Linked DNA regions of Homo sapiens: region 1 is linked to region 2. Evidence: fine-mapped expression QTL. A gene starts in region 2. The other region holds a variant in brackets. All regions are shown on one strand. Distances are between the middles of the regions.

Region 1 (16,721 bases), 38 kb after region 2:
TTTAGCAACCTTTTTTCCGCAAAGTCCAATTCCTGGCAACATGGTTGACACTGAAATGTTGGATAAACATAAATGGAATAAATGGATTATGATAGTGATTGGGAATGTATACGATATGAGCTAAAATATAGATTCTTGATACAGAAGAGACATATTGAAAGAAAAACTTTGTCTAAAATTAAAAATATTAAATTATTATTGTCTCAGTAAAATCTGGAGATTCTATGGGGAGATAGGGAGAGCATCTATCAATCAGGGTCCAGTTGCAGAGGATGGAATCCACCCGTCTATTTTAAACAAGAAGGAATTTGTTACAGAGCCATGGTAAGTGGGCCTCAGAACCATTGCACAGCTGAAGTAGTAGACTCTAAACTGAGCTTTCATGAACAACTCTCAAACTCAAAGCTGCTCCCAGAACTGGGGCCCCACATTGATGCTACCATAGCAACTTATTAAGAAGCTATTAGGATCAGGAAGGCACTGCCATCAGGACCTGCCTCGGCACCAAGCAGTGGATCCTTTCATCGGCTCCATAACTGCTCCTGTCTGCACTAGCAAAATGGATGGGATTTTTTTGACACCACATAGTTAGGGGCAGAAAACTGGGACCTCAGCCACAGAAAACTGATGCCTCCAAGACTGTGCTTGACTGTAGGAACAGCAGAAGTGGCTGCTCTCTCACAAATCTCTTAGGAAGGCATTTCACTGACCAAGCCAAAGTTACCTTTTGGTCTGTGGCTCCAAAGAGGCCAGCTTCCAGCACTTTGCAGCAAAGGCAGGTATGTCCACACAGAGAGGGAGAAGCAATGTAGCAGCAAGTATCTGGAAGGAAGAAATAGTTGGTATTTTGTTTGCATATGATAACAAACACTGGTTTCATTTGATTCCTAGTATTAGGCATTTTGTTTTCAGAACATTTTAATACAATTATTTGTGAAGGGAAGGTAACAACTTATAGAATTGAAAACAATGATGGAACGTTTACATTAACAAGAGAAAAAAAGGTAATAAGCTGAAACTCTACCTAGCCAGCAAATAGTAGAGGAAAAGAGGAGAAACCAACAAAGTAAACTAAATTGTAAATATAAAATAAGAAAAAAAAATGAAAAAAAATCAAGTGCACCATTGCTACATTAAAATGTAAAAGGACTAAATACCCCATGTAAAGAAAGATTAGGAATGTGTTGGATCAAAATAAAAGCACACATGAGTTGCTTACAAAAACTATAAGCAATATTTCTTAAAGGTTAGGGAAGTGAAAAGATGAACAGAAATATACAAGACAAAGAGCAAACAAAATAAAAACACTAAGAGCAATTTGTATTGGAATGAAAGCATAAAATAGTAGAAAGAGGAGCAATTTGTAAAGTCATAAACTTCCATGTCCAAATAACACAGCAACTATAAATGCATTTTTAAAAACTGTCACAATGCAGGAAGAATTGATTAATAATTTGGTTTTATAGTGGTATATTTTAATGAGTAGATAGTAGATAACAGGTTAGGACAGAGAGGCTTTGATGATCCAATTTAGAAACTGACTTAGTAGGTATATATCACAGAATTTTATATAGAATTTCATGTCCTTTCTCTAGCTTTCTAGTGCCATGAAACATTTAGAAAAATTAGTCAAGTACTTGGCCTGGAGAATAGCTTGAAAAATTCAAAAGAGCGTTTACAGACCACATTCTTTAAGTATTGCCCAATAAAACTAGAAATAAGTATTAAAATATAACCAAAAATTTTAACAACTTGGAAATTAAGAAACACACTTGGGACAAAGATAAAATCAGAATGAAATTCTGAACTATCTAGAAAACAATGAAAAGGAGAACACTTCAAAATCTATGAGACGAAGAGAGACTGCCAATAATAAAAGTTGATACATAAGAAACTAGAAAAAAAATACACCAAAAGAAAAGATAATTTAAAAAGATGGAAGCAGAGATTAATGAAATGGAAAATAGCAACAACTAAAATAGTAGAATGGATAAATAAATTCAAAAGTTAATTTGGGGTAATATACAAACCCCCTCTGAAACCTTTCTCTAGAGAAAAGTTAGAAATGAGAAAACAAACATAACCAAAATATTGAAGAAATTCTAGAAGATAGAGAATACCATGTATAACTTTTTGGAAATTTGATTTTTTTTTTTTTTTTTGAGACAGAGTCTCACTCTGTCGCCCCAGCTAGAGTGCAGTGGCATGATCTCGGCTCACTGCAACCTCTGCCTCCCAGGTTCAAGCAATTCTTCTGCCTCAGCCTCCTGAGTAGCTGAGATTATAGATGCGTGCCACCACGCCCGGCTAATTTTTGTATTTTTAGTAGAGACGGTGTTTCACCATGTCGATCAGGCTGGTCTCGAACTCCTGATCCACCTGCCCCAGCCTCCCAAAGTGCTGGGCTTACAAGCATGAGCCACCGTGGCTGGCCTGGAAACTAGATTTTTAAACCTAGAGCAGGGATCTGCAAACTTTCTCCGTAAAGACCAGAGAGTAAACGATTTAGGCTTTTTGGATCATACCGCCTCTGTCACAACCACTCAACTCTGTCATTGTAGCACAAAAGGAGACTTAGACATTGTAATATCAAATGGGTATGACTGTGATCCAACAAACTTTATTTATGAAAATAGGCCATGGGTGGATTTGGCCTGCAGGTCATAGTTTGTCAAACCCTGGACCAGAGGAACCCAGTATAGCAAAATATAAACTACCAAAATTGAGCTAGGGAAAATTTAAAACTTGAATAGATGAATTAATATTATATTTAGTGTAATTTCAGTTAAAGTCCCAACAAAGATATTTTGAAATTAGATTGTGCTCTTAGAGCATCTATTGAAGAATAAACTGTGACACATGACAAAGTGTTATGATAACTATAAGCGGAAGAAATTGCCTTATGTGCTGTTAATATGTACCATAAAGCCATCTTTATCAAAACGGTGTGACGTTGACACCATAGCTAAGCACTATGTGACACCACATAGTTAGGGGCAGAAAACTGGGACCTCAGCCACAGAAAAGTCAAAATGTGACTTTTATTGTATGCCTTATAAAGTTAATTTTATATAGATTAAAATCTTAACCAAAAACTATAACACAATGTAAATATTCACAGAAAAATGAGATGATCAAGTACAACGTAGTAATTGGGGTGACTGTTTCAGCCAAGGGATTGGAAATGCAAAGGTACAAAAGAAAAAAATAGGCATTTTATCCTTTATGAAAATGTTAAATATTTGCAAGAAAAAATATATCATCAAATTTAATAGACAAACAATAGGTGGGAGAAAGGATTGCATTGCATATACCAGTTAATAGATTAATATCAATACAATATGAAAAAAATCTAATAATTTGATAGAGCAATAGAAAAATAGGCAGATAATTTGAATGAGTAATTTACAGAGAGCAAAAATAACTGGCCAGCCGTGTATGAAAAGTCTTAACTATATAAGGAAATGCAGATTTAAGTAACAATATGGCATTATGCTATATCCCTTGGACAGGCAAAATATTAAAAGTATGATAATTCCAATTGCTGACAAGGATAGAGAAAGAGTAGTTTCATGTCTTGCTGGTAGAAATGTGAATTACTACACTCTTTTTGGAAAATAATCAGGCAACAGCTAATAAAATTTAAATTCTTCTCCTGGAACTAAAATTAGCTTAAGTAATGATACGTGTACAAAAATTATGCATTGCAGCACTGGTTATAGTAGGGTAGGCAGACCCTCTCTTCAGAAAAAAATAAAATAAAATAAATATCCATCAAAAGAGCAATGTTTGAATACATGCGGTATTTGCTTACCATGAAATATTCAGCAGTCTTTTAAAAGAATGAATTTTAACTCCAACATTTGGCACATACATTTAGTATGAATGGTGAAGATTAACAAGATGGAGAGGAGTTTATAGAATATGAAATCATTTTTGTCAAACAGTGGCAAAGACTCTGGTATGTGTATGTATAATTATATATACTGTAGTGTGTATGTATAATTATGTTGTAAATGTGTATGTACACACATACACACACACATTGCCAAAGAATAAATGAAATCTTGTTTTATTTTAAATCCAGAAAGTGTCAGATGCACTTTTATTTGTAATCCCCCCTTAAAGAGAAGATATTAGTTAAACTACCCTCTCAAACACTGGGAAACTAAACTGAGATTTTTTTTTTTTTAATGATGTCGAGGAACACAGCATTAGCTGGGGTATGGTGGAGAGTGGGAGAGCATTTACATTTAAGAATAATTAATAGAGATCTTGTTTTAGACGTTTCTATTGAGAAGAGGTCCTGGTTTTATGGCATCACCTATTGAATGGGAGTATCCCATAGTTAGCCAAGCATATATTAATTAGTACATTCCGCCAAAGCCTTCAGCTTCTTAGGTTTTGGAACCAGTTACCATATTTGGAAAAAACCAGTGACTCAAATGGAAACTTTACAGTGCTTCTCTCCTCTGTTAAGATATCCACGTCATCAGCTTGTTATCCAAGTGGAAAGGCACATTTTTATCCTTCAGTGGATCTGTCTTCTTCACCTAGTAAGAGCTGATTCTTCCTCCCACAGCTGTGTTCTTAGTGTAGCTAAAAGTGGGTGCACCCATCCTGTTTACTCCTACCCTTACCTTCTTGAAAAGAGGGAATAGATTGGTAGTATGTGAACATTTAGATACAATGTGAAACAATAAAATTAAATATCCTTCTTAGAAGTGGTTTTCAGACTTCTCAAAAACTGACACAGGGTAACAAATACATTTTATATCACATTGAGTTGTGTTGGTGTGTGCATGCCTGTGTGTGTGTGCATATAAAATAATGAACAAAATTTTATGAAATGTTACTTGTTCTTATTATATGCATTCCAAACAATTCCTACTCTCTTCTAGTCTACTTTATTTTATCTCATTTAAAAAATACTGATCACAGCACACTGAGTTGGCTTAGTAACCCACTAAATGGGGTAGTGACCTGCAGTTTGAAAACATACTGCATCAAAGGACTCCTATCAAAGTGGCATGCATGGCATTCCATGGTCAGAAGATTTTCACTGGACTGGAGAGACAGTTGCTCAGTGAGGTCAAATACAGACCTAGGCATGTTTTACTTTATTTCACATATGCCAATAAGGTCAGCTTATGTGAAAGACCTTCTGACAGCAGGTTCCTTAAGGTAGTTTTAAGTTTACCTTGGGCCAAAGCCTTGCAATACTTTTAGAGAATTAGCTTAAGCTAGAGGCAAATAAATTTTAACTGCTGTGGTAGATGCCTTAGCTAACGATTTTTCTCCTACAGTTGGGACTGTCATGAGAAGACTGGTCATCTTGGTATAAATAGAAGGCATCTCAGTTGATTTCAACTCTGCCCTAAGCTTTCTTGGATTCCTCTCCCATTTAGGCTTTAAAAGAATAAGCTAAAGTTGGAAAAAGAATTTCCATATGAAACTAAGCAACACTTAAGTATATTCTTTTATAATAATAACCCCAGTTGGGCATATTGACTACTTAATTCTTCATAATCAGTAGAGATCAGTTGTACACTATTCTAAATACAGGATTTGTGTGGGTCATAAGAACAGAGGTGACTTATGTACAGGCATTTAAAGTGGAAGTGTTTGAAAATCTGGCTCATACTTTGACTACAAAGTAAAATGATGTGTGTTATATCTAACTGGATTTGGGAGCAAAGAATTTCAAAAAGCCAGTGGAAACTGGACTCTGCCTGTGGCCTCTTTTACAATATACCTAATTTAAGATGTGTATAAGACACATTTTTAGATATTCACTAGGAAAACAAAGGCTTTTCTATCCTGTCATTTACTTAATTTTTTTAACCTAACTTATTTTTCTGAATGATTAACATTGATGCCTTTGATTGTGTGGGTGTTGTCAAAAGAGAGTTCATCACATGGGGAAAGGTTGGCAACCTCTCTCTGCTTGGTACTTTTCCATGAGCCTCCTTTCACTATTCTCATTGTTATTTCCTTTTCACTCTGAAGTAGTTCCAAATCTGATACTGAAGGAACTCGATTTTATTTTACATGAATATTTGAAGTAAATTGAGCCACTTGTGTTTTAAGGTTTGTTTAGTATGCACTACACAGAGAAGAATATAAAGTAAAAGCAATAGCAATAATAACTTAGGTTTGACAAAACACATAACAAAAAAGGGTACTTTGAGACACAGAAAGTCAAATTATAGGTAACCCTAAAACTCACCTTTCCACTTTCCTTTCTTTACTAGAATTCTCTACCAACATTGGGGTGTCGGTGGTGGTTAGGACAGAAGGAAGTATAGATATAGCTATCTGCTTCTAAGACATTTGCCATGTCTTTCTATGGCTGAAGACAACTTCAAAGTAACTAAAAGTGCCACTGGAAATAGTTTCTGTGAACTATATTGATCATAATTTGAAGAATTTCTACCAGCTGTGACTTTGTGAATGGCAGGAATTCTTAGTTTGTAGGACTGTCAAAATATGACCCCAATTTTGTGACCAGACCCAAATGAAGCCGACCGTTGTCCCTGGTGGTCCATTTTCTGTTAGGTTCTAGGTCATTTTTTTCTGAAAACAGTACTGAAGTTGGTAGCTTGTGGGAGTCACTGCAACAACCAAACTGATAACGGGAACCCATGAGACTCAGAGCCATGAAGACTGTCCCAGCACGCTTTACAGCAGCAGTCCCTAACCTTTTGGGTACCAGGGACTGGTTTCCTGGAAGACAGTTTTTCCACAGACGAAGGTTGGGGGATGGTTTTGGGATGACTCAAAAACATTACATTTACTGAGCACTTTATTTCTATTATTATTATATTGTAATATATAATGAAATAATTATGCCACTTACCCTAATGTAGTCAGTGGGAGTCCTGAGCTTGTTTTTCTGCATCTAGATGGTCTCATCTGAGGGTGATGGAAGACAGTGACACCATCAGGCATTAGATTTTCATAGGGAGTGAACAACCTAGATCCCTCAATGTGCAGTTTACAATAGGGTTCGCACTCCTTTGAGAATCAAATGCTGCCACTGATCCCACAGGTGGCAGAGCTCAGGCTGTAATGCAAGCAATGGGGAGCCACTGTAAATACAGATGAAGCCTTGCTGGCTTGCCTGCCACTCACCTCCTGCTGTGCGGCCTTGTTCCTAACCGCCTGTATGTAGCCCAGGGGTTGGGGACCCCTGCTTTAGAGTATGTTGTACTGAATATATCATTCTCTGTTGCTACATCAAGGTAACAATGGCACCATCTACTCTTGTTGTCTTGACTCTACATATTAACTATAGTGATTTGTATATCGTGTAACATTATGTGGAATCTTAATATGATTTTAAATTCACTTGTCCTCACAACTACAGTTAACATTTCTCTCTTACATGGAATCATTCCTTGCTGATCTTGGGTTTTCTTTTCTTGCTGTGGAGTTGCGTTGTTGTTTATTTTGTTCCAGCCACGCTTTCTTTATTCTCAGTAATACTCTTAGCCCAATTTCCTGCTGAATGATTTTGCAGAAGAACAAATTGTCCTTTGGCATTTGCACCTGTATGTCGCTCATTGTCCACTTGCTTGATGTGTTTCTGTGAAAGGGGGCAGCTTTTCCTTTTCTAAATGAAGAAGGGAGAGTCCAAACGTTTTTTTCCAGCTCCCATCAAAATATGGACTTAATTCCTTTTCTTTGATTTTGAAAGGAAATGGTGAAGGGATAATGATGTGTTTAAAATTGGGTGAATTGTGTTCTTTCTTCTAACTGAAACAGTGCAGAGGAACCTACCCATTGTGAAATGTTACTTGTGCAGCATTGTAGATGTGCAAGAACGGCAGTGTTTTCTACTTGGCTGGCTATCCTGGCATATAGTTCATCAAAATAGAGAAACAGGGTGCAGACATTCTGAGTGTAAGACCAAATGAACTCTAAGCATGTTTACCTCCCTATCATCTGAGGAGAGAGAGAGCTGGGAGTGAAGGAAGAAGTGAACAACTGTGGAATGTCTCCCTATCCTCAGTGGCCTTCAGATACCTCTGTTTTTTCTCCCCCTCCCTTCTGTTCATTGGGCACTGACATACCTTGTCATTACAAGCTATTATTATTTTTTAACAAGGTAAGTTCAAGAAGAAATGAAAAAGAGCCAGTATTCATACTGTGTAATAGCATATGGACTTTGCTATTCTAAAGCAGAATCTAAGTAGAATCAAAAGATTTGAACAAAATTATGAATGAAGGACCCTGACATATCTACTAAATAGTCACCAGCTTTCACGATAGCTTCTGTAGCATGCCAGGGGGGAAGAAAGCCACGTTCTTTCCTCACTGTTCCCTTAGGGCCTTTGTTGTAGGAGAATAGTGGGAGGGGCTGAGGTTGGCTTTGACTACAAGTGGAAATTTTTGTTTTCCTGATGAGCCTGGCACTCAGGACACTAGACATTTAACTGTAGGTTTATGATTGTCACCCACTCTGCTTTTAATGCCAAGAGTTTCAGAACCCGGCTGACCTGAGCAGAATAAAGTTCTTTGGGTTCAATCTGCAGCAATCAGAATTTTGAGAACAACAACAAAAAAAATCTTTTTTTTTTTTTTATCTGGTGTTGCCTCAGCAGGATCCCCGAATGTACTTGCTGGTAGCTTAGAGCATAGTCTATGCAGGGGAGGAGAAACAGAGTTGCAGCTGTGATGTGACTCATTCATACTATGTTCTTTTAATGGAGAAAAACCTGCAGTGACATCATCTGGCCACCAGGGGTTGTGCTGTTGCCAGAGAGCCCTTGATTTTATCTGCCCGCAAGTCCTGAGGCAGGAAGTAGCACCTTAACAGAGAGCCCCATCTTCATTCCTAAGAAAACCAGCATCAGTTTTTTGTTCCCTTTGTTGACTTTCCAACTAGGGCTGAGCCCGCTTTTCTGAATTAATAAGAACCAAGAAAGAAAAGGGAACATTAGTCGTGGTTCCAAATACCAACCAAGCACTTTGCTGCATACGGTCGGCTTTGGTGGCGGGCCTGAGTCTGCACCCAGATGGACCCATATGGACTCACCT[G/C]TCTCACATCTGCACCTGACTTGCACATATACCTTGTTGATAAAGCCCAGTGACAGCTGGATCTATCACAAATGTCCCACCTGATTTCTTGGAAGCTTTGATTAGCATCCATGTCCTCCATGGCAAACATTTAATTATAAGGGCTGGTTGTTGATAATAATCATTGCTAACATCTATTTATTATCCTTATGTGTTAAGCATTGTGCCCAACAGCTTATACAATTTAGTCTCATTTAATCCTCCAAGTAGCTATTTGAGATAGTTACTATTATCTTTCTTTTGCAGATGAGGAAAGTGAAGCATAGAGAAGCTAACTGTGATGACTGGGATCACTCTGCTGATAATTGTGTTGCTAGGACTAGATTCAGGCCCCTCTAACTCTGAAAGCCAACCACTTAAATGATACTTGATTTTCAAGTTGGGGGGATGGAGGCTGTGGCTAAGACCTGTCCCTGGTGGGGTATAGCAGAAGGACTTCGGGGCTTTTTTGTTCAAACTGCTTATGTTTATGTTCTCCTTTCCTTTCCCTCATCCTTTCCTTCTCCCTCTTCTGATATGCTTTCTGGGTAGGGTGGGGTGAGGTGTGTCCGTTGCTGTCACACTGAGTCACTGTTCCTCATGGGTGTGCCATAGCCTTCAGGAGTATTGGGATGGGAAAATAGCTGAGAACCAGTAGACTCAAGAATGGTTGCAAAAGTCCCAAGCAGCTTTTCTGTGAATTATTGCCTTTGGTGCTCTCTCTGTGATGGCAGAACTTCACAGGCCACCACACTGCTGTGGGTGCTGAGGAAGGGCAGAAAATAGCCATATATATGGAAAACATATGCCTGTTACAAATATGAAAATATATACATGAAAAGATACCTATGCAACACACATACAGATGAAAAATATATGCATATATTTTAAAAATATATGAAAAACAAATATATTAATTCATGTGTGTATATATGTCCTCCTCTCCCAATTCCAGCATCAGTGTTGGTAAGAGTGCAAGCTGTTATACATTCATTATGCAACTGGTTTTCACTGAGCAACTGCTAGGAGCCTTGCAGAGTGAGCTGGGGCTTTGGTGGTCATGAAGCCCTGGCCCGGGGCTTCAAGGAGCTCACAACCCAGTGGGTTTTTGCTTTTCTTGAGGCTAACACTGATGGTTCAATTTATAGATCAAGTCTCTTCAATCATAATGATTCAGATAAATAGAGAATTTTGTGGAAAAGTCTTCTGAATAGTTTTTTTTTTTTTTTTTTTTCTAAAAAAACAAAAGGCTGATAAAAGGACAAGGCCCCATGCTTTTTAGTTTCTAATAGTAGTGGACTGGAACTACTTGTGGATTTTGAGTTTTTGTTTTTGTTTTACTTAATTATAGGATTAGTTTTAGGTGTGACTTTTTCCATTTCCTTTGGAAGCGTCTAGTTTGCAATAAATTAGAAATGCCAGCTGACAGCAGGCTAAGATCCAGAAGAACCATTAACTCACCATTAACTCTACAGTCTCAGCATTACTGAGCTTTCTGTTTAAAGGTTAAGGCCGTTTATAACTCAACAACCCCTCAGGTCATTCATGAAATACATCGCAGCACCAAGAAAGTAGTGTTTTCTTCCTTAAACACATCTCTTATCCCATCATTCTTCTGCTCAAAAATCTGTGCTTCTCTACTGCTTCCAGACTCCTTACCATGGAATTCAACGTCCTCTATGATCTGGACCAAATGTCCTTTTTGGCGTATTTCATACTATCCTTAGGTTCCCCTGGAACCCTGACCCCAGGCAATCAAGCAGCTCTTGGTTCTTTCAATGTACCTGATACTTTGCCAATGATCTTCCATATAAGATGCCCTCTCTACCTCTGTCTAAATCTTATTTTAATATATGTGCTGCCGAAACGAGAATGAAATCTTCCTACTTTGTAAGACCAAACTCAGACAATATTACCTCTATGAAGATCTTTGGTGTCAGCTATTGGAATTAAATATTCCTTATTTGTGTTAATAGCACGTAGTTTAAACCTTGGTTAAAGCATTTAATGTTTTCTTTTCTTATTTATAGTTAGTTGGTGTCAACCTAAAATAATCAAAAGGGTCAGAATCTGACTTAGAGAGAGTTTATTCAAGGGCAAAGTTTGAGGATAGCCCACCTATAAACACCAGCTCCAAAGGAATGGAGTCAGTGTTCTGAAGTAGGGAAGTTAAAGTTTCATTTATATATAGTCAGAGACCAGGGAGTTTTTAGCAGGATTACAACATTTTTCTGACAAAGTTGGCACACAATTGCAGCAATTTGATTGGTTGTATAGGCTGTGTTTCTTTTTGGGAAGGATACATATAACATTTGTTACAGAGGGTATAGTGGTTATGGGTTTTCTGTCAACTGGCCTAAGCAAAGCAGGACAAGAAAGGGGAAGTTAATCTGTAACAAGGGTCATTAAGATGGCAGCAGGTTTTTGTCCCTGTTGTTGTTTGAGTCTCTCTAGTCACTGTACAGAACAAGAACAATAAGAAACAAGTTGTTCTATAATCTGAGAAACAGAAGTCACAACCCTGTGTGGCTCAGATCACAATCACATCTCTCTCAAGGCTTAAAGTGTCTTCAGGGTTCCAACAGGTTTTAAATCATATTTATTTTCACACTGGGTACATTGTGGACCGCTAAGTCCTTTGAGAGTAAGAAGCATGTCTTCTGCATTTTGTGTCACCCATCCATGAGAGAAAGGTTTTATATAAAATGAGTAAATTTTTGAGTGGTATAAGATTAAGTAAATTTTAGATCTATGGAAAAGGCACTTACGTGAAATTCTCTGATGATACTGAACAAATTGCATTGTTGTCTTGGTCCAGTCAACAGGCATCTTTTTGATCCTTTGAGGTACCAAGCAGGTTTTACCCTTAGGGCATCTGACCTAGCTGTTACCTCTCCCTGGAAATCTCTTTTATTCTGGAATGTCACATAGCAACTCCTTCTTAAGGCCAAGTGCACTGACCCATCTTAGAGAGGCTTTCTGCAACTTCTCAGACCATTGTTGGTTTTGCATGGTGACAAAGCCTGTCTCCAGTCACTCCATCACAGTGCCCTGTTCGCGCTATCACAGCCAGGCCAGTTGTTGCCCACTTGCTCATCATATGCATCTCTTAAGCTTCAGGAGAGCAGAGGCCCTGTCTGCTCTGATAATCATTGTATCTCCAGGACCTAGAATAGTGCTGAGCTCACAGTAATGCCCCTTACATCATACTATATTATTTAAAATCAGTGGGTTTTGACATTGGCTGCCCATCAGTGTCACCAGTGGGGATTAACAAAACACAGATGTGCAAGGTTAACCTCAAAGATTCTAATTCAGTAGGACTTGAGTGATGCCCTTAAATTTGGCTCTAAATGTATTAATCATCAAAGACTCAGGAAAACAAGGAAAGATAAGCTTTCTGTAGCTTCCAAAGTTGTAGCTGTTTTTAAAATTGTTTATATTTTCTTTTAAACTCTCATCCCATATCCTTAAGCCTTGTGACTGCCACAGAGAGAAAATAAGATCAAGCATGAGCTTACATTAGCCACAGAAACACCTGGGGCAGTTCCAAAGTTTTAATTACTGCTTCATTAATGTAAAAGCTTAACTATAGTTGTAATGTATAAACAACTTTTGGCATGTGCCCTGCAAATGCAAAAAAGTCTAAATAATTATTGTCGTGGCTCCTGTCTCAACGCAAGACCAATGATCGCCAAATTATTTTTAAGACATGGACTACATTAAAAAGTTATTGAATTATGTTTTCTGTTAGCTTATATAAAGCACATGACATTTAATAACTTGCAAAGAAATGCTTATTTTATCTGTAATATATACTTTGGTGTTTATCAGATTCTGTTCAAACTGTGTAGCAAATTTCCTTGAAAATAGAACTTTCTTTTTTCCTCACATCCCTGTATTTGATATCAGACTATTCTTAGACTCTCCACCTCACTCATCACCATGGTGTCTACGGACTTATAAGTATGACATGCTGTCACCCTTATTTATACATGAGGTATGGAGGTGAGCGTGAATAAGAATCTTGCTCAGAGCCAATTAGTTGCAGATCCAGCATTGGAATTCCTCTCCCATAGTATCAAAAGTGTAGTCATATTCCTAGATCATTAGGCAGGAAGAAAAAGAAAATAAAAGAAAAACTACTCAGAGACATCTGGCCGGATCTGTGCCTTTCATCAGAATAATCATGTCCTGAATCTCCCACTGGGGTTGTCAGAAAAGATTTTTCCCAAGCTTTTCTATACCACGGAGAGCTACATTTAATTTATAACCTGAAAGTATCCCCTAAAACAGACTCATAATCATGCTTGCTGAAATTTTAGCCCAGCCTTCTTGCTTGCTGAGAAAAGAGCTGGCTGTCCTTTCTCTTTGAATAAGCCTCCTTGTATGAACAGTCTCTAGAGATGTCCCTTTTCCAGATGAAAATCTGTTTTATGTGTTATCATGTTGACCTTCCAATCCCTTGAATGATTTTACGTTTTCATCTTGGTAGGTCTGTTCTCTCTATAATCTAATTTAATAGTTCTAATCTGCACATATCCACCACATATCTAGTTCAATATCAAGCAGGTATCCAGTGAGTTCACAAACTCAGAAGGGCAAGAAATATAACTTTTCTTATTTTTCGGCAACTCATTTTCACTTCTATTTTGAGTTCTTTTTCTACCAGGAGAATTTTAGGGAAATGTTTGCCCCCAGATCAAGAGACACTCTCCTCTTTCTGCTTGCTAGGCCCAAAAGAACAGACTCTTTTGAAAAGTGCAGAGTTTAGAACTCTAAGAGGAAGAACAGTCAGAAGGATTTTTTTTTAAGCAAAGTCTATTTTTCACCCAAGGTGGAATATAATATAAAGTACTAATCAGTTATACAAACATGTTATTTATAAAATAACAGCCCACTAAGCGTCAGAGGTGAGGGGTTGCCCCATCCAATTTTCAGAGTCTAAAAGAGGCATCTGGGTGTCCATTACCTGAAACAGCACAGGCGCTAGTGTCTCCAGAGAAAAGGAAATGGAAGAGGGAGGCAGGGGATGTTACAACAGGGTGTGATTAATAGCAGCTCACTGCTGGAGTTCACTCAGGAAAGGCTGGGTAAATGCTGCAGCTCAAGGTCAGTGTGAGGCAGGCCAAGGGATCGGTTAGCCCTGGAACTTCTGAGTGAGTCCTTGGCTCCAGTTAAATAAGAAGCAGCCAAGATCTGGGAAGGTCAACACAGTCAAAGCCCTACCAGGAACTAGGATTATACCCTGGGCTTCAAGCCAAGACCAGGGCACTCTGGCTGATCTGAGTGTGATCTTGAACTCTGCTTTGCCCTCTGAGAGAAGGAGCCGAAGCTCTGTCTACCTTCAGGGACAGAGGTCTGGAGTTAGTTTCCTGATTACAGCAGGAACAACCCAAGAGGCCATCAGATACTGGGAGGTTCTTACAGTGCTCTAAACCCTTTCAGGCAATTTGAGTCTTCTGTGTCTATTGTCTTCACAGGCATCTTGTATAGTGTTGGAAACCTATAGTGATAAGTGATTTTCAGCTACTTACTAGAGATGGGAGAATTTCAAAGTCCTTTCCTTCATTGTCCATCTTTACTCATTTGGGTAGAGTTATACCCAGTTCTATCCCTGCATACATACTTGCATGCATGGGGTAAGAGAGATCTATTTACAAACACGTGACCACAAACACATGACCAGCTTCCAAAGCTGAGAATGCCAAGGACACATGGAAGTTATTGGTCACCTGAGTATAGAAAAAGCAGGGAAACCCAGCTCAACCACTTTCTGTCTATGAACGTCAATTTTCCTCTTTATAAATTAGGGATGTGTATAAAATAATGTGCATAAAATCTTTGGCACAGTGCCTAACACATTGTGAACACAAGTGTCAGCCAAAATTATGAGCATGCAGCTGTCTCTGTGTCTGTTGAGCAGAGCTTCCTCAATGTGTTGTCAATGGCTCAATTTTGGAAACGGGCAATGTCTCGAGACAGTGCTGATTGCCACAACTTACGGGATGAGTACTACTCGTATCTAGTTGGCAGAGGCCAGATATACTGCTGAGCATCCTGCAGTGAACACACAGTTCCCTACAATCACAACAATGAGTTCCCCTACCTGAAATTCCATAGTGCTGAGGCTGAGAAATCCGGCGAAATGGTCATAGCAAGATGAGATGAGTTTAGCTGATTTCCTTCATCCTTAGGAATAAGAACATGTTAACATATTAACATTATTGACCTCTACCAGCACTTAAAGGACAAAAAGCCTATCAAATCTAAACCTTGCTATGAAACAAAATCTGATTCTTGTGAGAGAAAAGTCTTCCTTGATTCTCAAGAGAAAGTAAAAGGTTTTTGTGGTTTTGACTTAAATAATTCTAATGACTCGATTTGTTTATTGGACAATAGATTGAAGGAGCTAAGCTGGATTTTGTTGATTTTAATTTTTACCAGTAATGTAGTATAAAAAATGTTTTGCTAGACTTGTATGATTTACTAAATAATTATTGATATTTGCATATCATGTAGGATCAAGAAAAAGTCACATGTTAAATTCTGTGTACAGAGATAATTATTTTCAGTCAAATGAAAGTAAAAGAGGCCAGGCGCAGTGGCTCACGCCTGTAATCCCAACACTTTGGGAGGCTGCGGCGGGCAGAATCACCTGAGGTCAGGAGTTCAAGACCAGCCTGACCAACATGGTAAAACCTCATCTCTACTAAAAATACAAAATTAGCCAGGCGTGGTGCTACATGCCTGTAATCCCAGCTACTTGGGAGGCTGAGGCTGGAGAATCACTTGAACCTGGGAGGCGGAGGTTGCAGTGAGCCAAGATTGCACCATTGCACTCCAGCCTGGGCAACAAAAGCAAAACCCCATCTCAAAAAAAATCAAAATAAAAGTAAAGGAGATATTAAGTTTAGCTTGCCTGCAATATACAAATTAAATGTGCTAGAATTGAGCACTTATAGCACAAATTATAGGAAATAAGATAGTGAAAAATTAAAAATTACTTAGGTCATAAAAATGCAGAAAATACATAAAGATGCTTTGGAGCCATAGAGCACCTGTTAAAGCTTGACTTTCATTGTATTTCCATGTTGTTCCATTACATTAGGGGAAGCCTCCTTAGTGGCTCATCACCTCATTGCCTAGACTGGGTAAGCAGGGACACAGGGTCATTGCTACCTTTCACAGGTGCTTTACTGTGCTAAACTTCTGAAAAGCCACCTTTTAAAAAGGGAACATGCATTTTCAAAGCCACTGATTATTAAACCCCTCTTTCAGTCATCTTATTTGCAGACTTTCATTTTTGAGCTTTGTTTGCCATCTGGGAAGGATTTTGAAAGAGAACATAGGCCTCTTCCTGCTTTTATGTTCAGCATGCCATGAATTGCATTAATGAATTCTTAAGATCGTTTGATCTATTTAAAAAAATAGCTCTAGATTCAGTCAGTTGTTAAAAAAATGTGTTCAAGATTGTCTATAATTGCACTAGCCACAAACAGATTTTCGTAGGTATTTTCTTTGTAAAGAATCTATTTGAAATATTGGAAATGTTTTCAGGAACTAGAGACAAAAGATATACATGGTTTTTTGAATAATTTAGCATGTCCTAATTTTTAAATGTCCCTCAGTAGTCATTTATCTGCAGAGCAAGTAAATAC
Region 2 (16,721 bases):
CCTCAAACCTCCTAGGGCTCCTGGCTCGGTCTGAAATAAAAACCGACAAAGACAGATTAACAGGAGAAAAGCACATTTATTTAACCAAAAGCAACTTATTTAATCAAAGCTTTATGTGACGGGGAGTCTTCATAAATGAAGACCTAAAGACCTAAGAAAACTCTATTTTTATGCTTAATTTTATGTTCAGTGAAGAATGGACAGCCATGAGGAAATGTGATTGAACAGAAGGGGTATGATCTAATGGTCATAGGTTGAGAGGGGAAACCCAGTGATACGGTTTGGATCTGTGTTCCCACCAAACCTCATGTTGAAATGTAATACCCAGTGTTGGAGGTAGGGTGCAATGCGAGGTCCTTGGCTCACGGAAGCGGCTCCCTCATGAATGGATTAGCACCATCCCCTTTCTGATAAGTGAGTTCGCGGAAGATTTGGTCATTTAAAAGTGTGGGGCACCTCCTACTCTCTCTCTCTTGCCCCTCTCTTGCCATGTGATATGCCGACTCCTGCTTCACCTTCTACTGTGAGTAAAAGCTCCCTGTGACCTCCTCGGAAGCCAAGCAGATGCTGAAGACATGCTTCCTGTACAGTCTGCAGGACTGAGAGTCAATTAAACTTCTTTTTAAAATAAACTACCCAGTCCCAAGTATTTAAAGCAATGCAAGAACATCCTAACACACCAAGCAAGGCTTGGCTGTTGGATGCTTCTTGGCCTCTTGGTGTGGTGCTCCTCCCTCCAGGGTGTGGGGCAGAACCACTCTAGAATGAGGGTCTTGTGACCTACTATCAGTCAAGGTAGGCCAAATAATTTATGGCCAGCTCCTACACAGAAAGGTGGGGCAAGGTTAGAGGAATGTATTTGAATGCTTTGAAGTGAAGGAAAGGGACCTAGTATTTGGCATGCCAATGTGCCATACTTTGGTGTATAGTGTTCTGAGCCTCAACAATCTCTTTTCCTTTCTTCTCTCAGCACTGCTTGGAACATGTGTGTGTGTGTGTGTGTGTGTGTGTGTGTGTGTGTGTGTGTGTTGGAAGGTTATGATGCAAAAGTTAGTTTTTGGGTGTCTATGGACCCTGTCACTTCTGGGAACCAGCTCCTCTTGACTAAGTGTGTGGGATGGGAATTGAGAGGAAGGGGAAAAGAAAACCCAAATGACCCCATATCCAGATGGATGAGGTTGACAGTGTGTTCACTCACCAGCAGCTCCTGCAGGCCCTGGTGGAACCTAGCCAGGCCTTGTGCTGCACCTCTCTGATGTCCACTTCACCTCTAGCTTTCGGCTTCAGTGGTCCTAGCTAGTATTCAGCCAACTAATCTCCCCTGGCCTCCTCCAAAGCCAACTCTCTGGTGGGTAGACTCCAATTTCCATGTTTCCTGAGAACTGGGAAGTTGGTAGAGGTGGAAAAAAGGTGGTGCTGGTCCCCTTTCTGAGCAATCAAACTATCTCTCCTCATTCCTTTTGCCCAGCTTAGTAGTATGATGTGGGGTGAGGTCAGTAAGTCCTCCAGCTAGGCTGAGTTCTGAATGCCTCTCCCTTTGTGCAGCCCCTCCTACCCTCATGAAAGATTCTGTTGCACCCTTTTCTTCATGTGGCTTCAGGAAATGGAAGCTGCCTTTCTCCAGCCTCCTGGGGATATTGGCTTACTAGCTAGTTCTCTCTCCTCACTAACTTCCACCCCCTACCTGGGGCTTCAAGGAAACTCCTCTCTGGCTTCCTACACCACTTGAGAGGGTGAAAAATTCAAAGTGACAAAGAGCACTTGTTCTATCCCTAAGGTTTCTCAAAACTATCTGGCCATCAGAGTTCTCAATGCAATTGTCGAGGCCAGGTTCTCTTTGCTCTCATGGGAGTAAGGAGAAGAAGGGTGAAATCTGTAGACAGAGCCATGTCTAAATCTTTCATACTTCTCTGCCCTCCCCAATGTTTTTTTCCTCTCCAACTCCCCTGGAATTAGGGGTAAAAATTCTTGTGCTGCCTGCTCATATTTCTTTTTCATTATTTTCTGTTTACTTGGGTGACAACGTTTTAATTTAAAAGCTGAGACTATAGAACCTTTCATCTTTGTTGTGGACAGTTTCTGAAATGGTCATTGTCAATCTTGGAAGCACATCAGTATCACCGAGAGAGATTTAAAAAGACAAATCAGAATACTTGTGGGGTAGAACCCAGGTATCAGAAATGTTTAAAAGCCACTCATGTGGTGCTGATGTAGAAGATGACTGGGAACCACTGCTTTAAAAGCACAGGTGCCCAGTGGGATAGGAGGGAAAGAACATGCCCATTAATACCTCATATAGCATCGTGACACAAATGCAGAAAGCCAGGCACAGAGAGACTGAGACAATTCCTTTAGGTGATACAGCTGGTAGTTTTCAGAGTGGGAATCTAATGGAGCCCCAAAGCTCATGTTCTCTTTCAATGTATTTGTAAAGTTCATAGGCCAGAGCAGCACACTTCACCTGTCCTTTCTACTCCTTCCTCTCATTTCTGTGCCCTGTCCACCTCCCACGATGCCTTCAGACCCATACATTACAAGTGACCGGGAACTGGTGTAAGTAAAAACTGTTGAATACACATTTCCTTTGGACAGTTGAGATTTCTACTGCATTTCACCCCTATAGAATGATCAACTTTCTAAACAAACTTCGTTCTTATATGAGTTATAGTGCTATCGGTAGAGACCTGAGTTGATATTTCTTACTCCTTGTCATGCTTTCTAATCGCATGACCAGGCAAGCCTTGGGACAGGACTGTGAGTTTCTAGTCTTGTCTGAAAACATGACTGTCTCATGTTAATGTTAATGTCAACACCAATGTTAATGTTAAAGCAACAAAATACATTAAGTAAGGTATTTTTAAACAGAATTTCATTGATTCAATCAAACACTTGCACAGCGTTTTGCATCTGGAGTGGCCATAGAGACAAAGGAGAGGGTGAAGGTGGCTGTTTTAATAAGCTTTAAAGAAGTTAAGAAAGTTCACCATCTTAAATGACAAGGAAAAGACAAAGAAAAGACAAAATAGAAAAATCTTCATTTTTATAATATGTTAACTTCAATAATAGTCTTCTTTGGCTAAACCATTATTAGGGGGATAACACAAACTTGCCTGACTAATTCCTTTACTCTTAAGACACAGCTGAGGCAAGCATTTTGAAAGAAACATTTCTGTACTTCTCACCAGCCTGAGTTAGGAGGCTTCCCTCAGTGCTCACAGACGCACTGGGCTTACCCTTTATGCACAGCGCTTACCACGAGGCGCTGCTTTATAAAAAACCTGTTTATCCCTCCTTCTCACCAGATCATGAACTCCCTGGTAAGGAAGGAGCATGTCCTTAACCCATACCCTTAGCATCTAGCACAGTCCCTGGCATATAGATGTTCAATAACTATTTTGGAATGAATACCAATATTTTATTATTATAAATAATGATTGAAAAATTAAAAGGGTAGCAACTTAAAATGTTATAAATCAGAAAAATGAGTCAGAGTGTAGATGAAGGTTAGATGACTCAAGCTGGGAAGTCATTAACTATTTTTAGCTCGTTTTAGCAGCAGGGAGTCAACCCTAACCTGGTGTTTAATTTCCAGGGTATAGAAGACCAGAACAACGGAATAGACTTTAAAAGTGATTTAATCACTGATTCTTCACTTCATGCATCCCTGGTCACTATTACCAAAAGTCATTTAAAAGCCTTATGCTTAGTGTTCTACATAGTAATTTTAATGGCAATGATTACAAATCAGTGAGATCTTCAACATAACAAAAACCACACTGAGGTGCTCGTACATGTGCCAGGAAACCATGAGTAGTATTCCTTCTTTCAAGAAAAAAATGTAAGACTCCATTTATGTTTATTAGTCTATACTGTGCAAACTTGGGCATGGATAAAATATAACCTACTGGTTAGTTAATTGTTTATTCAATAAATCTTTTTGAGCTATGAAATTTTTATAAGACTTTTTGTCAGGAATTATGGGAGGTTTAACATAATATCCACACTCAAACCTGACAGACTTTACCATCTATTTTAAGAAAGGAAGAGGAAACAAAAACCCAAGTGGCAAACTATTCAAGACCAAATGTAAATAAGTACCACATTGTATTTTACAGATGAAGATCGTGTAGATGTTGAGAAAAAGGGGAGATCTGTAACATCCAAAGCCAGAGGAGTAGAGATGGGAGCTGATATTTCTTACTCCTTGTCATGCTTTCTAATCTCATTACCAGGAAAGCCTTGGAACAGGGCTGTGAATTTCTAGTCCTGTCTGAAAACATGACTGTCTCATCAACCTGCAAGTACAACCTACAGGGACTCATGGATAGAGACCCCAGAAGATTCAAGTTTCCTGCTGAGGAAAAGCAAGGCAGCTCTGCCTTCTTGTTTCATCTCTCCAGTCTATAAACAAACCTTTTTTTTTTGGTGATTTTTCTGGGCCCCCCAGGATAGCATTGAAGTACTGTCTAGTGTTCCTAGGTGCAAGAAGGTTGTGATGTGCCTTAGAGAGAAAATATATATGTTAAATAAGCTTAATAAACTTGATTCTGGTATGAGTTTTAGTGCTGTTGGCTGTTAGCTCAATGTTAATGAAACAACAATATACATGATATACATGAAATAAGGTGTCTTTAAACTAAAATATATAAAGAAACAAAATTGTGTATTGATCAGTTGACAAAAATGTTAGAACCACGGCTTGTGGAAACCTACCTTCGTATCTCCACTAAGAGTGATGGCTCAGTATTGTAAAACCATGTTCTCTTCCTCTGTCCAGGGCATAGTATCAGACCTTTACAGGCACAACCCGTCTTATTGCGCTTCTCTTAACTGTGCTTCACAGACACTGCATTTTTTTTTTTTTGATGGAGTCTTGCTCTGTTGCCCAGGCTAATCTCGGCTCACTGCAACCTCTGCCTCCCAGGTTCAAGCGATTCTCCTGCCTCAGCCTCCCGAGTAGCTGGGACTGCAGGCGCGTGCCACCACGCCTGGCCAATTTTTTGTATTTTTAGTAAAGATGGGGTTTCAGCATGTTAGTCAGGAAAGTCTTGATCTCCTGACCTCGTGATCCGCCCACCTTGGCCTCTCAAAGTGCTGGGATTACAGGAGTGAGCTATCGCGTTTTTAACAAATTGGAGGTTTGTGGCATCCCCATGTTGAGCAAATCTATTGGTGCCATTTTTCCAATGCCATGTGCTCACTTGATGTCTCTGTGTCACATTTTGGTAATTCTCACAATATTTCAAGCTTTTTCATTATATTATATCTGTTATGGTGATCTGGGATGAGTGATCTTTGATGTTACCATTGTAATTATTTTGGGGAACCCTGATCCATGCCCATATAAGACAGTGAATTGAATCAATAAATCTTGTGTGTGTTCTGACTGCTCCACCAGCCAGCCATTTCCCCATCTCTCTCCCTCTTCTTAGGCCTCTCCATTCTCTGAGACACAACAATATTGTAGTTACGCTCATTAATAACCCTACAATCGCCTCCAAATATTCACATGAAAGGAAGAGTCACATGTCTCTCACCTTAAATCGAAAGCTAGACATGATTAAATTTAGTGAGGAAGGCATGTTGAAAGCTGAGATAGGCCAAAAGCTAGGTCTCTTGTACGAGTTATTCAAGCTGTGAATGCAAAAGAAAACTTCTTGAAGGAGAGTAGAAGTGCTACTCCAGTGAATACACAAACGATAAGGAAGTGAAACAGTTTTCTTGCTGATATGGGGAAAGTTTGAGTGGTCTGGATCAAACCCGATCAAAGCAGTCACAACATTCTCTTAACCACAGCCTAATCCAGGGCAAAGCCCTCACTCTCTTCAATTCTATAAAGCCTGAGAGAGGTGAGGAATCTGTAGAAGAAAAGTTGGAAGCTAGCAGAGACTGGCTCATGAGGCTTAAGGAAAGAAGTCATCTCCATAACATGAATGTAAGGTGAAGCAGCAAGGGCTGATGTCAAAGCTGCAGCAAGTTCTCCAGAAGATCTGGCTAAGATCATTGATGAAGGTAGCTACACGAAACAACACATTTTCAATACGGATGAAACAGCCTTATATTGGAAGAAGATGCTACCAAGGACTTTTACAGCTACAAAGAAGTCAATACCTGGTTTCAAAGCTTCAAAGGACAAACTGACTCTCTTGTTAGGGGCAAAAGTAGCTGGTGACTTTACATTGAAGCCAAAGCTCATTTACCATTCTGAAAATTTTAAAGCCCTTAAGAATTATGCTAAATATATTCCACCTGTGCTCTATAAATGGAACAACAAAACTTGAATGACAGTACATCTGTTTACAGCATGGTTTATTGAATATTTTTAAGCCCACTATTAAGACTTACTGCTCAAAAAATGTTTCTTTCTAAATATTATTGCTTAATATTGGTTAATAATATACTTTGTCACTCAACAGTTGATGGAGATGTACGAAGAGATTAATGTTGTTTTCATGCCTGGCAAAACAACATTCATCTTGTAGCCCATGGATAAAGGAGTAATTTTGACTTTCAAGCCTTATTATTTAAGAAATAAATAGATAGCTGCCATTAATAGTGATTCTTCTGTTGGATGTGGGCAAAGTAAATTGAAAACCTTCTGGAAAAGATTCACCATTCTAGATGCCATTAAGAACATTTATAATTCGTGGGAGGAAGTCAAAACGTCAACATTAACAGGAGTTTGGAAAAAGTTGATTCCAACCCTCCTGAATGACTTTGGGAGTTCAGGACTTCAAAGCAGGAAGTAACTGCAGATATGGTAGAAATAGCAAGAGAACTAGAATTAGAAGTGGAGCCTGAATATGTGAGTAAATTGCTCAATCTCATAAGACTTGAATGGTTGAGGAGTTGCTTCTTATGGACAAGCAAAGAAAATGGTTACTTGAAATGGAATCTACTCCTGGTGAAGTTGTTCACAGCATTGTTGAAATGACAGCAAAAGATTTATAATTATATAAACTTAGTTGATAAAGCAATGGCAGGGTTTGAGATGATTGACTCCAATTTTGAAAAAAGTTATAATGTAGATAAAATGCTATCAACCAGCATTGCATGCTACAGAAAAATCTTTCATAAAAGGAAGAGTCAATTGATGCAGCAAACTTCATTGTTGTCCCATTTTAAGAAATTGACACAGCTATTGCAGCCTTCAGCAATCACTACCAGGATCAATCAGCAGCCATCAACATCCAAGCAATGCCTTCCACCACCAAAAAGATTCCCATTAGGTGAAGATGATCTTTAGCATTTTTTAGAAATAAAATATCTTTTTAAGTTAAGGTAGGTACATTGCTCTTTCTAGACATCGTGCTATTGCATACTTAACAGACTACAGCATAGTGCAAACGTAACTTTTATATGCATTAGGAAACTGAAAAATTCGTGTGACTCGTTTTGTTGCAATACTCGCTTTATTGCGGGGGTCTGGAACCTAACCTGCAATATCTCTGCGTTATGCCCTTATAGCGCCGGGAGTGGGTGCCTTCCGCCGGCTGTACAGAGCGCCGGCAGGTGGCGCCCAGCGGCGAGCTTGTTCCAGCTTGGTTTGGGCCAGGTGGACTGGAAGGGGCGGAGGTAACCAGAAGCGGCTAGTGGCGGCTGCCTGCGTCCCCAACCCCCTCCGCGCAGCGCTCGCGACACGCGTGCCAGGAGTGGGAGCGAGCGGCGGGGCCAGCTGCGTTCTGAGCCTGGGCGCAGCTGCCATCTGCTCTGGGAAGCACCAGGGTGTCCCCGCCGCCCTCAGCTCGAAGTCAGCCACCATGGAGGCGCAGGCACAAGGTGAGTGGTCGCCGATCGCCCCGAGAGTCAGGTCCTGGGGCGCGCATAAAGGCTCTTTTCCTGCACCACCTAACTTCGCTCTCGGACAGAACAGATTGGTGCCGTGTTGCACATCCAGAACTCCACTCCCACCCGCGCCTTTGGTATAATGCCTGCTGCCCAAACTCAGGATTTGCTGTGGGTCTGGGGATCAATAAAGTGACAGGGGATCCGTAAGTGGAGAGGCCCCTCCTCAGGAAATGCGCCCGTGGAATGCTCTACCCTCTTCCGCAGCCAGTCGCCCCTGGCCTTCCCAACCTCGCGGCTGCCCGAAGGACCTGTTGTGCCGGGTCCGGAAAGCGTGTTTCGCTCCCTTTCCCTTGAGGGAGTGGGGAGGGAATGTGACTCTTTTCGCCCAGCGCCGTGGACTCGCGGCTTGTGGCTCCCAAGTTAGGGAGTGAGAGGATCGCCCGCCGAGGGGGTGGCTCCGCAGCCCGGCTGCGCGAGACGCTTCCCGCTCGGGGACCCGCCTTCCGAGGCCAGGTGAACGTTACCGGCCCCCTGACCTCCAGCAGATCCACACGTGAGTCCCGGTTTCCGCGATCGGGGAGCGACCTCTGCCTCCCGTGGCGCGCGGGGCCCCCGGCCGCCCAGCTCCCTGCTCCCGGGGCTGCCTGCTGGAGGAGCCTGCGGTGGCTTCAGGAAGGGCGGCCTCATATCTTGGGGTCACACTTGGAACAGGGTTGGGGAATTCCGATGGAATCGTTCAAGAATGGGGGTAAACGGACCGTGGAAAGGGGCAGAGGTGGGCGGATGTGGAGCGAGAGACAAGTGGGAAGGAAACGGACTCAGTGATCTACCTTGGGGAGCAACGCCCAGAAGGGATGGCTTGCGGAGTTCAGCCTTTAAGGCAATCAAAGCCACCATTCTTTTACACAGTAGGAAACTCTGTGTTGGCTCTTAGTATAGATAAAATCTCATTAAAAAGAAAAAAAAAAAGGTTCATGACCTGATGCGCTCGCCCTCTAGGGGCAGAACGCCCTGAATGAGAGTGGGTTGGCGATTGCGTGGGCCTGGAGTCGCCCAACAGGTTTGCTGCCAGGATTACAATTGTCTGAACAGCACGAACCTTACTCGTTTGTTCCATCCTCCTAAGTCCTGCCCGTAAAGCTGCCGCTTCCCATATTTTTTCCTCTATTATGTAGATAGGAAATGATAATTCAACCAAGGGTGAGGGCAGTTGGTCAAATTCAAAAGCAGAGGTCAGGTTGGAGGCCTTCACGCCAGAACTGAAGCTGGTGGGAGCAGCACCGGAGCTTTCCAACCTGACTTGCATATTAGAATTATTTAGAGAGTCTTCATTACTGGCCTTGGCCAACCCCATCCCAGTCAAACTGGAATCTTTGGAACCTGAACATGGGTATATTTGAAAGCTTATATTAGTGAGGATGGAGAAGAACTATAGCAGATAGGAAACATTCATACAACTTCTGAAGACATCCGAAACTACAGACTGGTAACCACTGGTGTCACTGGTTTGCTTTATTGCTTTGCTTTACTTCCAAGATTTACTTAACAAATATTTCAGTGCTTTCCTTTGCCAAGCACTGTGCTAAGAAGAGCAAAGACAGACTTGGTATCTGCTTCATAAAATTTACAGTAGAGGAAGAGACAAATATTAATTTGATAGCTATTTGAAAAATAACATGTAAAATCACTGCCATGCTGATGCTAAGAAAGGGCCTCATAGTGCAGCGAGAGCCTGAAAAACTATAACCCTAGTATGCAATAATCAGAAGAGCAGATTGTTTATTGTGTCCCTGTCTCTGTTCTTCGTGCTTTGCATGTATTGATGGACTCATTTCCTGTGCGCAGCAGTCCCATGAGGTAGTTCATATTCTCATTCCCATTCTACAGAGAGGAAACAAGCATGGAAGGTATTAGGTTGGTGCAAAAGTAATTGCAATTTTTGCCATGACTTTTTAATAAGTTCCTTGTTTACAGCCAGATAGGTAAAAAGTAGCAAAGTGGATGCTGTGAGGGACCCATTCTCACTCAAAGCCTATGACTTTTGGAGGAAAGGTAAAACTTCAGTCCCCACCTGAATCTCCAGCTGTCCTGTGGTGCTCTTCCTTTCCCCTCATGACTGGATGGAAACTTTAGGTGTAAAGAGGACTAGTAAAAAGGCAAATGGATATGAGAAAAGTGAACAGATTTAATAAATACTTAAGAGGCCAGGTGCAGTGGCTTACACTTGTAATCCCAGCACTTCGGGAGGCCAAGGTAGGAGGATCACTTAGAGCCCAGGAGTTCGAGACCAGCCTGGACAACATAGAGAGACCTCATCTCTACAAAAAATAAACAGAATTAGCTGAGTGTGGTGGCATGTGCCTGTAGGCCTAGCTACTTGGAAGGCTGGAGTGGGAGGATTGCTTGAGGTCAGAAGTTTGTGGCTACAGTGAGCCAAAATCCCAGCATTGCACTCTAGTCTGGACAAGAGTGAGACCTTGTCTCAAAAAAAAAAAAAAAAAGAGAGAGATACAAAAAAGGCCAGCCACACCTGTAATTCCAGCACTTTGGGAGGCTGGAGGAGACAGATTTTTTGAGCCCAGGAGTTTGAGATCAGCCTGGGCAACATGGTGAAACGCTGTCTCCACAAAAAATACAAAAATTAGCTGGGTGTGGTGGTGCGTGCCTGTATCCCAGCTATTTGGGAGGTTGAGGTGGGAGGATCACCTGAGCCCAGCAGGTGGAGGCAGCCGTGAGCTGTGATTACATCACTGCACCCCAGCTTGGGCGAGAGGGCAAGACTCTGTCTCAAAAACAGATAAACAAAAAGAGAATAACAACAAAAAAACTTAAGAAAAGTCAAAATTGGATTGAATGTGAAGGAGGGCAGTGTCAAGGATGACCAGCTTCCTACTTGTACAATCAAATGGAGGATAATTACCTCTTAAATCTTTATTTGCCTAGCATTTTAAGATTTTCATTTTCAGACTTTTTGTTATTTATAAAGCAGAGATATTGAGTTATTTAAGAAAAAACTTCTCACAAACTGTTTATAGCATATATTAAAGGGAAATCTTTTTTCCACTTGCACATTTTTTCTGGCTAAATGAATGATTTGCCTCTTAGATTCTAGATAAGACAGTTCTGTGATTTTTAAAGTGTAAGTTTCCACCTTCAGCACAGTTTATTTTAGAATTACCTAGAGTGGAGATGGCTTGTCTTTCTGCCTGCTAATCTAGAGACAGGTAAAGATAAGTGAGATTAAGCAGGCAGTTGCTGATGAGTTGTACCTCATATTGTCCAGGAAGACACCAAGGTGTTATGGACATGATTCGCCCATATAGCTCAGTAAGTGCAGCAACTTACTGCACTAGAAACTTTCCCATAAGTGAAATTATGCAAATATGTTCTTTGACTTTGTAAAATAATAGATTACTTCCAGCAAAACAAGAGGACTCTCAGGGGAGGTGGTAGGACACTAAACAGGAAGTGGGATTATGGGTGGAGCTGTTCACTGAGGAGGGCTGGAGAACAACGTGGAGAGAGATGTCCACAGGAGAATGGCATTCCTATTTGCTTTCCTCTGGTACCAGATAATTTTGCTTTAAGACAACTGATATGTTAGAGAGGGAATTGGGTTGGAAATGTAGCATTTTCCCGAAACATACAGTAGTCCTTTAAAATAAAAACTTCCTGATCCTTTTAAACTACCCTTCAATATTTTATTATTCTAAATGGAAATAACTTTGTTGTTTTCACCTTTCCCAACGTCTTTAATGTTACAAGGAAAACTGTCTCCTTTTAACATTTGCATATATTCAAATTAATAACTATGTTAGTTTCTCAAGGCCACTGTAAAAATTACCACAAACTTCGTGGCCTAAAACAATTAACATGTGCTGTCTCATTGTTTGGCGGTTAGAATTCCAAAGGCACTATCACTAGGCTGAAATCAAGGTGTCGGCAGCGCTGTCCTTCCTCTGGAGGCTCTAAGAAAGAAATCGTCTTTCCCTCTTTCAGTTCCTGGTGGCTGCCGACATTCTTGGGCTGCATCACTCCAATCTCTCTGTCTCCGTGGTTATGCTGCTTTCTGTTCTGTTCGCATCAAACCTCCCTCTGCCTCTCTCTTATAAGGACACTTGTGATTTCATTTAGCACCTACCTAGATAATCCAGGATAATCTCTCTCTCTCTCAAGACCTTTAACTTAATCACACCTGCAAAAGGTAACATTTCCAGGTTCCAGGAATTAGGATATATTTAGGGGCCATCATTCAGTTTACTATAATAACTATTTTTTATATCCACTCAAGAAGAGTCTCAGATGTCCATGAATGAAATAAAGCAATAAATATCAGATTAACCCTACTGTTTGCAAAGTCCTTTAAATGAAAATGTCATTATACTTTACATTATACTTTATACTTACATTATAAGTATACATTCTACATTATACATTATACTTTACATTATACTTTATACCTTACATTATACTTTGCTCACAGAACATTTATATAATTTTATCTTGTTTCAGGAAGTACATAAGGCAGTTTATATGGATACTTGAAATGCAACAAGATAATGTAAATTAAAAATAGATGAAAGAAAATAAATGAGGATAAGAAGAGAAAAGGAAGCAAGGGATGAAGCTCTAGAAAAATGAATATAATCACATTACTTTTATTGATATTGCATGGAAGATAAATTCTTACTTTATAAAGGAAGTATGGCATTTTGTTATAAAATGATAAAAGAACCATTCTTCCTTCTGTCAAACAGCAGCAGGTCCAGTCTCTTATACAGGCATACCTTGGAGATAGTGTGGGTTCAGTTCCAGATCACCCCAAAGAAGTGAATATTGGAATACAGCGAGTCACACACGTTTTTTGGTTTTCTAGTGCATATAAAAGTTATGTTTATACTATACTGTAGTTTGTTAAATGTGCAATAGCATGCTATCTAAGAAAAGGTACATACCTTTATGTAAAAGATACTTTTTGCTAAAAATTGCTAACGATCATTTGTGCCTTCACTGAGTGGTAAGTGTTTTACTGGTGGAGGGTCTTGCCTGGATGTCGATGGCTGCTGACTGATCCGAATGGTGGTTGCCGAAGGCTGAGGTGGCTGTGGCAATTTATTAAAGTAAGACAACGAGGAAGTTTGTCACATAGATTGACTATTCCTTTCAAGAAGATTTATATATAGCCTGTAATGCTGTTTGGTAGCATTTTGTCTGCGATAGAACTTCTTTCAATATTGGAATCAATCCTCTCAAGCCCTGCCACTGCTTTATCGACTAAATTTATATAATTCTAAATCCTTTGTTGTCATTTACACAGTGCTGTGAACATCTTCACTGGGAGTAGATTCCATCTCAAGAAACCACTCTTTGCTCATCCATAAGAAGCAACACCTCATTCATTCAAGTTTTAGCATGAGATTAAAATGTCATAAATTTAGTTACATCTTCAGGCTCCACTTCTGCTTCTTTTGCTGTTTCTACCACATCTGCACTTCATTTCCTCCACTGACATCTTGGACACCTCAAACTCATTCAGGAGGGTTGGAGTCCACATCTTCCAAACTCCTGTTAATGTTGATATTTTGACCACCTCCCATGAATTACGAATGTTCTTAATGACATCTAGAATGGTGAATCCTTTCCAGAATGTTTTCAATTTATTTTGCCTAGTTCCAACAAAAAAATCACTATCTATGGCAGCTGTTTTCTTATGAGATGTATTTCTTAAATAATACGACTTGAAAGTCAAAATTACTCCCTGATCCACAAGCTGAAGAGTGGATGTTGTGTTAGTAGACGTGTGAGCAATGTTAATCTCTTTGTACATCTCCATCAGAACTCTTGGGTGACCACGTATGATATTGTTTGGCTGTGTCCCCACCCAAATCTCATCTTGAATTGTAGCTCCCATAATTCCCACATGTCATGGGAGGGAGCCATTGGGAGGTAATTGAATCATAGGTGCCGGTCTTTCCCATGCTGTTCTCATGATAGCAAGTCTCACGAGACATGATGGTTTTATAAAGGGGAGTTCCCCTGAGTATGTCCTCTTGCCTGCCACCATGTGAGATGTGCCTTCCATCATGATTGTGAGGCCTCCCCAGCCATGCGGAACTGTGAGTCCATTAAACCTCTTTTTCTTTACAAATTTCCTAGTCTCGGGTATGTCTTTATTAGCAGCATAAGAATGGACTAATACAGGTGTGTTATCAACCAGAAGTAATATTCAGAAAGAAATATTTTTTTTCTGAGCAGTAGTTCTTAATAGTGGACTTAAAATATTCAAGAAACCATATTGTAAACAGTTACCCAGGCTTTGTTATTCTATTTATAGAGCACATTTTCTAAATCTATAGATTTAGAATAATTATTTATTTATTTGTATTTGCATTTTCATAGATGAAAGGTCTTGCTCGGTTGCCTAGGCTGAAGTACAGTGGGATCATCATAGCTCACTGACACCTTGAACTCCTGGGCTCAAGCAATCCTCCTGCCTTGGCCTCACAAAGTGTTGGGATTACAGTCATGAGCCACTGCATCTGGTTACAGTTAGAATAATTCATAAGGGCCTTAGAACTTTTTGAATAGTAAGTGAGCATGTAACTTAAAGTCACCAGCTACATTAGCCCCTAACAAGAGAGTCAGCCTGTACTTTGAAGTTTTGAAGCCAAGCATCGACTCCTCCTCTCTAGCTATAAAAGTCCTAGCTGACATCTTCTTCCAGTGTAAGGCTGTTTCATCTATATGAAAATGTGTTGTTTAGTTTAGCCACTTTCATCAACTATCTTAGCCAGATCTTCTGGAGAGCTTGCTGCAGCTTTGGCAACAGCCCTTGCTGCTTCACCTTGCACTTTTATGTTACAGAGATGACTTTTTTTTTTTTTTTTTTTGAGATGGAGTCTTGCTCTGTCACCCAGGCTGGAGTGCAGTGGCACGATCTTGGCTCACTGCAACCTTCACCTCCTGGGTTCAAGCAAATTCTCCTGCCTCCGCTTCCTGAATAGCAGGGATTACAGGTGCGTGCCACCACGCCCTGCTAATTTTTGTGTTTTTAGTAGAGATGGGGTTTCACCATGTTGTCCAGGCTGGTCTGGAACTCCTGACCTAAGGTGATCCACCTGCCTCAGCCTCCCAAAGTGCTGGGATTACAGGCATGAGCCACCATGCCAGGCCTGAGATGACTTCTTTCCTTAAACCTCATGAACAAATCTCTGCTAGCTTCCAACTTTTGTTGCACAGCTTTCTCATTTCTCTCAGCCTTCATAAATTGAAGAGACTTAGGACCTTCTCTGGATTAGATTTTCACTTAAAGAAATGTTGTGGCTGGTTTGATCTATCCAGACCACTCAAACTTTCTCCCTATCAGCAATTAGTCTATTTCACTTTCTTATCATTTGTGTGTTCAGTGGAATAGCATGCTACGTTTCTTTCAAGAACTTTTCCTTCACATTCACAACTTGAATCAAGAGGCCTGCTTTTGATCTATCTTGGCTTTCACTGTGCCTTCCTTGCTAAGTTTAATCATTTCTAGCTTTTGACTTAAGGTGAGAGATTTGTGTCTCTATGTTTCACTTGAATACTTAGAGACTATTATAGGGTTAATTGGCATACTATCAATATTGTTGTGTCTCAGAGAGTGGAGAGGGCCAGGGACAGGGAGAGAGATAGGGAAATGGGTGGCTGGTGGAGCAGTCAGAACACACACAGGATTTACTGGTTAAGGTCACCATCTTATATGGGCATAGTTCATGGTTCTCCAAAACAATTCTGATGGTAACATCAAAGATCACCAATCACAGATCACCATAACCGATTTAATAATAATGGAAAAGTTTGAAATATTGTGAGAGTTACTAAAATGTGACACAGAGACATGACATGAGCCCATGTTGGAAAAATGGCACCAATAGACTTGCACAACCTGGGGTTGCCACAAACCTTCAATTTGTAAAAATAATATCTGTGAGGTACAATAAAGTGAAGTGCAGTGAGGTATGTCTCTAACTATTAAATTATCCAAGGAAAAAATTATTTTGCATTTTATGTTTCATATTTAAAATTTTGTATTGAAGTTTAGGCAATATAATAATAAACCTCAAACTATGGAAGCAAGCTGTTATATATTTTGATTTATGATTTTTAAGAGTATTATTAAGACTATTCATACAATTTTCAAAGTTACCTCCTGTAGTTTTGTTTCCTGTTTAAGTAAAGGTTTTGAAATAGGTGATGATGCATATTTTAGGTGAAGTCAGTCATTTGCAACAAATCATATACCACTGTTTTATTTTAAATTATTTTAAAATCTAATTATACAAATGGCAGCTGTTGTAGTAGATGGGAACATATTTTGAATTGCCTTCCCTGTTATACACCTTATTAATTATCTGGGTAGGCAGAATCTGAGAATTTCTTCAAAAACTTATAAGCAAAGGAGTCCATTTTTGTGGCCTATAAGAAGATGTGCTACTTAGTAATTTATAGTAAATAATAAACAAATACTTCAGCAGATATTGATTCATTAAATATTTTAATAAATACTTATTGATTACTGCAGTAATAGCAAATATTTGACAAGCACATACTATTGGGAGGGAAAAGGGCATAGTGATTAAGATCCCAGGATGAAGGTAAACTGCCTGGATTTTAATTCTGACATGTTACTTACCATTAATATGACCATGAACAAGTTATTCATTTCACTCAATCTTGGTTTCTACATATGCAAAGTGAAGATAGTAATAGCTCCAATATCATAGGATTGTTATGGGGATTTAACATGTTAATACAAGCAAAGTGCTTAAAGCAGGGCCTAGCACATGGTAAGTAGTATATAAATGTTTGCTGTTGCTTTTATTAGCATATGCTGAAAACTTTGCATCCATTATTTTATCAAAACCTTATAATAACATCATGAGGTAGATACCTTTACT

What was found.
Region 1: its variant is fine-mapped to the expression of TPD52L1 in skeletal muscle (GTEx, PIP 0.96).

Annotation. Positions count from the first base shown.
Region 1 is chr6:125,183,750-125,200,470 of GRCh38, forward strand. The region is part of intron 1 of TPD52L1 (TPD52 like 1); the gene reads left to right. LOC100126584 (a long non-coding RNA gene) reads right to left here and starts at 14,068. Exons shown (of 4, transcript NR_149043.1): 1 at 14,033-14,068; 2 at 6,860-6,915; 3 at 725-822. The variant G/C (reference allele first, on the strand shown) is at 9,043.
Region 2 is chr6:125,146,192-125,162,912 of GRCh38, forward strand. TPD52L1 (TPD52 like 1) reads left to right here and starts at 7,582. Exons shown (of 7, transcript NM_003287.4): 1 at 7,582-7,779. The coding sequence starts at 7,761. RefSeq lists an enhancer at 8,378-8,965.